2 separate regions of the Homo sapiens genome follow, and region 1 is linked to region 2. A link means that fine-mapping ties the variant in region 2 to the expression of a gene that starts in the linked region. Tissue or cell type: cerebellum. Region 2 holds a variant in brackets; the other region holds the start of a gene. All regions are shown on one strand. Distances are between the middles of the regions.

Region 1 (4,330 bases), 79 kb after region 2:
CATAAGGACCCATTTGCTTATTATTTCTGATGAGAAAATTGAAGATCAGAGGAGAGGTGAGGTGATCAGCCAGGACGCAGTTGATCAGTCACAGGCTCTCTTGCTGCCTCCTGCTCTGCTCCTGCCCCTTCCCCACCTCAAGCTGCAGGAAAACAGAGGAGGGTAGGAGAGGATACCCTGCCTCCCCCTGCCAATGCCTAAGACACTCATCCTTTCTCTTCCTTTGAGATCCCTGCCTCTGCAGTCCTCACAATTCCCCATGTGTTTCAGTCACAAGTAGCTTCTTATCTTCCAGAAGTCTGAATCTATGCCATTCTTCATTCAATCATTTGACAATCGTTCCTAAGGACCTACTGGGTCACAGCACTAGTAATACAAAGATGACCACTCAAATTAACTAGTAACCACATTACAACTGTTCTTGGTTGACTCCAAAGATACTTAATCACACCTTGAAAATGGACTTTTCCAATGCACTGTGATGTATGAGCAAGAAGGCTTGCTACAGTGACAATTTAATAGCAGAAAAAACAAACTAAGCTGTCGGTCAACAGAAGATGGTTAAATGAAACATGGTGTATCTAACTCACTAGAAACCCAGAGACTGTCTGAAAAAACTCTCTCAAAACAAGCAAACAAACAAAAACAGCTGTTACCTCTGGGAAAGTTTTTTCAGTTTTCTCTACACTTTTTTTTTTTTTTTTTTTAATAGAGACAAGGTCTCGGCTATGTTGCCCAGGCTGGTCTCAAACTCTGGGACTCAAGTAATCCTCCTGCCTCAGTCTCCCAAAGTATTGGGATTACAAGCATGAGCCACGGTGCCTGGCCTATACTTTTGTTTTTAATGTTAGGTATGTGCTGTTTATAACCTAAAATCTAAAACAAAAAAACAAAAATCACTATTCATGGGGGAGTGGAGGAGGAGTGTAAAGTTTATTTCTAAACTTTCATTTACTTCTCTAATCCATTTTGAAGACTTATAACACCTCCTTATAAGAACAATGAAACCCATTAGAGCAGACTAATAAATCAGTCTGCCTCCCAGAGAAAATACTGTCAAGACAGCAGGGTGAGAAACTATCCTAGCTTGGTAAGTCATGTTCCCTGGTTCCCAGCCTGCCAGTACTTGAAGCCTCATGGCCATTCAAAAACAAAACTAGAGACACACCTTTTTAAAGGGGGCAAACTTAAGAAACTCTCGAGACAAAGGAGATTAAATACCCATGTACAAGACTCCAAAGACTCTAGGCCTTGATCTAGACCCAGTTTCCAAATTTTGGAGGGAAGCATTGTCCTGGGGAACAGCGGGCACTGAAATGGGGCCCAGCATAGCCCCAGCGCCCTGCCAGGCGGCGCTAGCGGGGATCACCCGGCTGCAACTGCGAGGGGCTTGGAAGAATCACCTGCGCCCGGTTCCCTCATCTCACAGCTGTAGGCGACCAGGAGCCGCAGCATGCATTCATCCAACTGTATGCCAAGCAATTCAGTTCATCCTTACCAGGACCCTGTTTCACAATAGGAAGCCCGAGGCCGTGAAAGGCCCAGTGTCTTGCCAGAGTCAGAGGAACAGAGCGCTTTGGGGACAGCTTTCTCCACCTGTCTCAGTGGATGGGCTCGTACCCGCCTCCAATCTGCTCACCTGTTCGTTCCAACCGTGCAGCTGGCTGTAGCGCACCCTGCAGAAGAGGAACCCGTCCAGGTGCACGGAGTACAGCTGCAAACACACAGACACCCCGTCCCTGGTGAGCCGAGGGATAAGTGAGCATTGCCACCGGCCCCCTCCCTGCCCACCCTGACCCCAGCCCTGGGCGCACCACGTAGCGGCCCCCCAGCGCGTCGGACCGCTGCTGGGACACCGGGATACAGAAATGCATCTTCATGGCTGAGCGGTGTCTTGGGAGTAGCGCTGGGAACCCGACCTGCGGCGGCGGGCGGTGCGCGGCTCTGAACTCGGCAGCGGTGGACGCAGCGCGGCCTGCCACGCGACTCAGAGCGAACCCCGGCGCCCGCTCTCGCCGGCCGGGGACATCTACAGGTGGGGCCGGGGCCGGGCCGCGCCGCCTCCCAGTCCCCGCCCCATCCAGCCCCGCCGCTCTGGTCCCGGGATAGGTGGCGCCTGGGGCTGGGGCGCATCCACGGCCACCCCCACCCCGGACATCGGCCACTGTTGGCATTTTCTCCAAGAAGGCCCGTGAGGGGCTTGAAAACAGTTTGTGTCCCATTACCTGCCAACGCTGCCTGCAGTGCACTAATTAAGATTTCTGTAATTACATAGATCTAGTAACTGCCTTATGATTAGCAGAGTTATGTTTGGTCAGTTTTTTTGTACTGACATTTGTTAAATGTAACACAAGACATGCAGCAATATATGCAACCTTGCTTTCGTATTATTCTTTCAATCTTGTTTTTTCCCCTTAAAATACCAGAAGCCCCCCCCAAATGGAAATGGCTTGGGTTTCTCTTGATCCCTGAGAAGCCCTCATTTTTAGACAGGTGCATTCACATAAACACTTGGTTCTCTGGACTACCCAGTGCAAGTTCTTTCAACAGTCTCTCATTTTTAGTTGCTGTGGAAAATAATCTTCCTAATTCTCTATTTTAGTTAAATGAAACTAGAATTCCTCCCACCTTGCCGTGATCACAGAGCACAGAGATGCTGCAGCTCTCACCAGCCTGTTCTGTAGCAAGCCTGGGCTGGCTCCGTTCTTCCCTCTCTCCTTTAATCTACCCGTAACTCTTCCAGGTAAACAGAGGACATCCTACCACGGACAAAACAGGCCCAGGGGGTGGAGGAACTTGTCCAAGCTCACAGGGCATTTTTTTCATGGGTCTGAGTCGTTTACTGCAGGATTTCATCAGGATCATTGAAAGTCCTTTCAAATGCCAGTCATCCCTGGGGTAAGAGCTGCATGCCTGAAACGGGAATCCGAGACTAAGGAAGGAGAAGCGACGCCTGCCAAACACCGGTGCCTCCTGCGTGCTTGCTGGGTGCCAGGACCTGACATATGCTATGCCATTTAATTTTCACAAACACCTGTGGGCTAGGAGCCATTGACAGTTCTGGTCTTATAGAAAAGGAAATTGAGGCTAGGGCCATTAAGTGAGGGAAGCAGTATCATATAGTAGTTAAGAGAATGGCAACAGGAATTCATGTCCCAGCTTAGTGGCTTCTAGTTGAGAGGCCTTGGGCAAATTAGTGTTTTTTGTGTTTTTTTGTTTTTTTTTTTTTTGTTTTGAGACAGAGTTTTGCTCTGGTTGCCCAGGCTGGAGTGCAATGGTGCGATCTCAGCTCACCACAACCTCTGCCTCCCGGGTTCAAGTGATTTTCCTGCCTCAGCCTCCTGAGTAGCTGGGATTACAGGCATACGCCACCACACCCGGCTAATTTTGTATTTTTAGTAGAGACAGGGTTTCTCCATGTTGGTCAGGCTGGTCTCAAACTCTTGACCTCAGGTGATCTGTCCACCTCGGCCTCCCAAAGTGCTGAGATTACAAGTGTGAAATTAGTGCACTCTTTAAGCTGCAGTTCCTTCTTATGAAATCATGTTAATAACTCTACTTACTTCAAGGGAATTTTCAGTCCAGGATAGATGGGCCTTAGGGTATTTCCCCTGCCCATAGGCCATCTCTGATCTGGAAGGCCTCCCTATACCAAGGCCAGGGGTATTCCTGAGTGCCTCTTGGGACAAAGCCTGATCACGGCAGCTCTGGAATCTGGTCTGATCTTCAGGGCAAAGCAGAGCATTTTGGTCAGACCCAGAAGTGGCCCCAGCTTTCCTGGAACTTTCCTGCTCCAGTGAATGGCCTGGACCCTGGTTTCACCCCATGGCATGTCCAAACAGGGCCATTTCCTTCCTTTCACTAAGTGCCCCCCTGGAGTTGAACTGGAACAGGACAGGCCTCTGTGCAAGTCACCGTCCTCTTGCATCCCTGACCTCTGCTGTAGCCAGTCAGCTCTTATTCAGTCATTCAGTCAGTGAACATTATTGAGCTCCTTCTGTGTACTCCACACTGTGCAAGACAATCTTCAAACATGACCAAGAGAGAAGTATAATAATGGTAGCAGCGATTGGAGGCGCTGCTCTGAACACTTTACATGAATGAAGTCATTTAATTCTCACAATTGCCTGAAGTAGGTACTGATATTATTCTCATTTCACAGATGGGGAAACTGAAGCATAGGGCAATGAAGAAACTTGCTCTGAATTGCAGAATTTGTGAATAGTAGATGGGGGATGTGAAGTAAGTGATCTGCCTCTAGAGCCTGTGCTCTGTGAAGCTGCTTTTCAGGGGTGCCTGGGGAAATCTGTACCACGACTTGACAAGCGCA
Region 2 (4,395 bases):
AACTCTCCCGTCTTCCACAGTCCTGCGTCCACGCAAGCCACTCCCCTCATGGGCCACTGAATACACGCTGCAGGACAAGGGACAGCTAAAACAGCAGCTGAGAAAGTAGACTTGCCTCTATTGCTGAGTTTTCTTTTGTAGTTTTCCTTTGTTTGGTATTTTAGAATCATTTTGCCACTGTTTTACCACCAAAGGTTGGCACCTACTTGTTTTTTCCACAAATTAGGAACACCAAGCTCTTCTCAATTTTACTTTGAGGGTAATCTTAAGGTAATTTCTAACTGAAATGTTTAATGTAAAATTTGCTTAAATGTCCATGTGGGGATGTGTGCAAGCTGTATGCTGACCACACGCTGATGTAAACTGAGACCTAGTTCTGGGGAGGATGTTAGCTTATATATATATATATGGGATTTTAGAGTTATGAGCCAGGAACCATGGATGAAAACCAATATATATGTATCATAATACCACCAGCCACTGATGGGGACAGTCCTTTAGTCCCTTCATGTTGAGTGTTAACACATACTTGTGAAGGCATGTAAACCAGCCCTTCATTTTATCTCCCCATTCTAGACAACCGATGTTCTAATTAGTTGTTCTACTTCTCTATTACTAAACGTTTACTCTAAACTATCAGGCCACCCCCTGGTTTTCAAACACAGATCCCTTTCATCAAAAGAATATACAGGCCAGGCATGGTGGCTTACACCTGTAATTCCAGCACTTTCGGAGGCAGAGGTAGTAGGATCACTTGAGACCAGGAGTTTGAGACCAGCCTAGGCAACATAGCAAGACCTTGTCTCTACAGAAAAATAATTTTTACAAAAGGACATACAATTCAAAAGATATCGCCTTATTACTAGAATCCCACACAGTCATTAATAATTAGTCCAGTCCATCATTGTGTATGAATGTCTCCCAGAGTAAAGTCACTCAGGTTTGCAGGTTTCCTCTCAATCTTATCAGGTGCCAAAAACAGGAGTGGTCTTGGCACCTAGCCTCACCCTTTGAGGCATCTGGAATAACTGAGCTGAGACATCATGTCATCTTTTGCTCTGAGACTCTTTTGAGGTATTAATGTAATATTGAATTTCCTTCCATTAATAACCTTTTTTTTTTCTTTACTCTCAGCTACTTTTTCTCCTTCTCTCCATTAATACTCAAACTTTTTCACCTTTGGAAGGGACATTAGAATTGCCACTGTGCTGGTCTAGATTGTGGGCAGCAATACTAGTCTAGCAAGTAGCTCCTCCTCAATCCACCGCCATTCAGATAGGGTAAGGTTACACAGGTGCAGAACTAGTGAGCTAGTTTTGCCACCAGAGAACATAGCTGCATTCACTCTTGATCCCAATTTCTTAGATGGGGTGAAGGCACAACCCGCCCCCATTATCCCCTTAGGAATTCAGATACAAAGTTTAAAAATGTAGTTACAGCTTCTTGCTTAGAAATCATCCTTGCTTCCAGCACTTGTAGTTGTAGCCCTGGTCCTAGGATCATTGCATCAGGTAGAGGAGAGAAAAAAAAATTGAGGTTGTTTGGGGAAGAGAGAGAAAATTATAGTCATTATACTAGTGTACTCCTCCCTTGGCAAGAATTGCATAGTCATATCAGCATCCTCCCCAATCCCTCTTCCCAAATCAACCAAAAAAAAAAAAAAAAAAACAAACAAAGAAAACACAAAAATCTAGTGGGGACACTCCTTTAGTCCCATTCATGTTGAGTGTTAGCACCTACCTGTGAAGGTGTGTAAGCCAGCCCTTCATAATTTATCTCCCTGTTCTAGACAACCAATGTTTTATACTCCTTCTACTTCTCTATTACTAAACTATTACTCTAAGGAGGTATCTCTCTGCCCATTGTTGGATATTATGGCTTATACATTGTTCCTTGGTCTGAAGAAATGACAGTTTTCTGTACAAATCCATGCAAGTCTTCAGTTCTTGTTTTTTTATGGTGCTCTGAGCATTTTCATCTTCCACTAAGGAAGCAAAGCCCAGTCCACAGTCAGTGTCTAATTCCTGTCAAGACCAATGTGTAGCCCCCCCAGGGCTACCAGCATCAGTTTCACTTGCCAGCTCTGGTCAGGGCCTTCCCACCAGGCAATCTGCCCCATAGCCACTGGAAGTTTCTGTCTCTCTTGCTGACAAACAGGACAGTTCTTATTGGCATTCTGTGCCTGCAAAGATGCAAAAGGAACATGTTTAGATTCATCCCATCTCTGCACTGCTGCAGTATTCCTATATCCACTCACTTCATGGACCAGGTGATGACCACAAGGGCAGACA[C/T]GGAGATAACTGCTTGTCTATTCCAGTCACCTTCTCAGCCTGGGGAGGAAGTTCTTCTGATGGGCATTGACTTATTCTCCTTTAATGCACCCCTCAAATTTCTATAGGGCTATGCACCATATGGACATTCCTTTAATAGATCAGATTTCCATAGTCCTCTTGCCTGAGTGTATGGCCAGGCCATTGGTCACTGCTCACGAATCAGTAAAAACCCAAACATGGAGGCTTCTACTACTGTTCAGTTCTTCCATTACTGTAAGAAAGACAGCATGCAGTTCAGCCCCCTCAGCTAATCTGTTTTTACCTTCTTTGATCAAAGCAGCAGCCTTCCAAACAGGAGGATGTTGTCCATTCACTTTGGAAATGCTTTCTGTAAACAGAGCAGCTCCTTATTGGTCAATCAAGAGCTGTTCACAGTGCACTGTCCAAGTGTCTATAGAAACCAGCAGCACCTTACAGTCTGTGTCAGTCCTGGGGGTAAAGAGGCTCCCTGCTCATGAATATCTCCTTCTTGCATTCCCCAGGTGGCATGATCCCCTAGAAACAATTTCCATTTTATTGGGGAACTCTTCTGGGCACTGCCACTCCCTGTAGCATGTTTCTCTGCTGTCAGCTCTTCAATCAAAGCCTGCACATGCTTCCCTCCATAGGGCCCAAAGGGGCTCGGTGGGGCCTGACCACAATTTAATCACCTCTGTCCAATAGTTATTCTCATTATGATTTGTGTGAAATTTTCAAACTCAGTTGTGTTTGCCTGTGGGCAAATTGTTTATGCCAGTTATTTTAGGAGTATAAACAGCAGTAAAATCTCATATGAATGTCTAGAAGTGGAAAGAAGTGATGGTGGATATAGACATTGCAGGAGAAAATGTGGTTGCCTGGGGACCATTTTTGCAGGGATATGAGGAGTGGACAAAGGCATAGGCTGGTAATTGGCAAAGCCATGTCACACCCCTTAGGATTAGCAGTTACTGAAGGATATCAACAGTCACCTACCTGATAAAGCCACGCACCAGCTGATGGCTTCTCCAGTGCTGGGGTGGCTGTGCCGGTGGCAGGGACTACCGCAGAGTGAGGTCCTCACCTCCTGGAGTGATGAGGGGGTCTCACTCGCCATCTTCTCCCAGCACCTGCAGCTGGGGAGCTCACTCTGGCAGCTGAAGTTCTGACTTTTTACGCAATGATCAAGTGTTTTGATCCAGAAGTGATTTAAACTCCTAAATTCCTAGATAAAACTAGGCCCAGTAATCCCCCAAAAAGGCTAATAGCTCCTTCTTCTCTCACATAACTACTAAGAAATGTATCATTTTACAAAATAAGTTTTGAATTTTGTTTCAATTTTTGTTTTATCATGTGCTACCCTAGTTCCTTTATTCTTCATGTTATATTTATATACTGTGGAATGCATGTCATCAATTGTATTTTTCTTCTCATATTCTGACACTGATGATAATCTCAATGTTTGGAAAAAAAACTATTAAATAAAATGCTTCTGTTTTTGTGCATCCTCAAAGGACAAACTGCTCTACATATACTGTAGAGATGCTGCATTAGGATATACATATATTTCTGATCCATCCCACTTCTTAGCTTTATCTCCTAACTACTCCCTTAACCTAAAACTTCGCTAGCACAGAACAAGTTTACTCATTTTTCTACAATGCCACATTTAATCTCCCATCTGTAACTATCCTTCCCTTTCTCTAGGGTGCCCCACCTTTGCTCACATGGCTCTACTCTTTCTTCAAAGTCCCTCTTCCCCTTGGGGCTTTCCTGATGGCCCCGACGTCCTTTGACATGCAGGTCCACACTACGCTGTTGTTGTTGTTGTTTAATAGATATTGGGTCTCACTATGTTACCCAAGCTGGTCTTGAACTACTGGGCTCAAGTGATCGTCCCGCCTTGGCCTCCCAAAGTGCTGGGGTTACAGGAGTAAGCCACCACGCCCAGCCCACATAGCACACTTTTGACACCAACCACATGTTGTCTGGGATTACTCTCTTACATATCAAGTTGAAACATGAAATTGTCAACATAAAACTATTTTTGGCCTACAAAGACAGCAATTATATATGGTTCAATTTATGTGTCTTCTTACTCCAA

What was found. PIP is the estimated chance that this variant, and not a neighbour inherited with it, causes the effect.
Region 1: it holds the start of SNX31, and the variant in region 2 is the best candidate, but not a certain one, in a credible set for the expression of SNX31 in cerebellum (GTEx, PIP 0.58).

Annotation. Positions count from the first base shown.
Region 1 is chr8:100,647,635-100,651,964 of GRCh38, forward strand. SNX31 (sorting nexin 31) reads right to left here and starts at 2,031. Exons shown (of 14, transcript NM_152628.4): 1 at 1,815-2,031; 2 at 1,640-1,714. The coding sequence starts at 1,880.
Region 2 is chr8:100,568,148-100,572,542 of GRCh38, forward strand. No RefSeq gene overlaps it. Among named protein-coding and RNA genes, the nearest start is that of ANKRD46, 11 kb to the left of the region's middle. The variant C/T (reference allele first, on the strand shown) is at 2,292.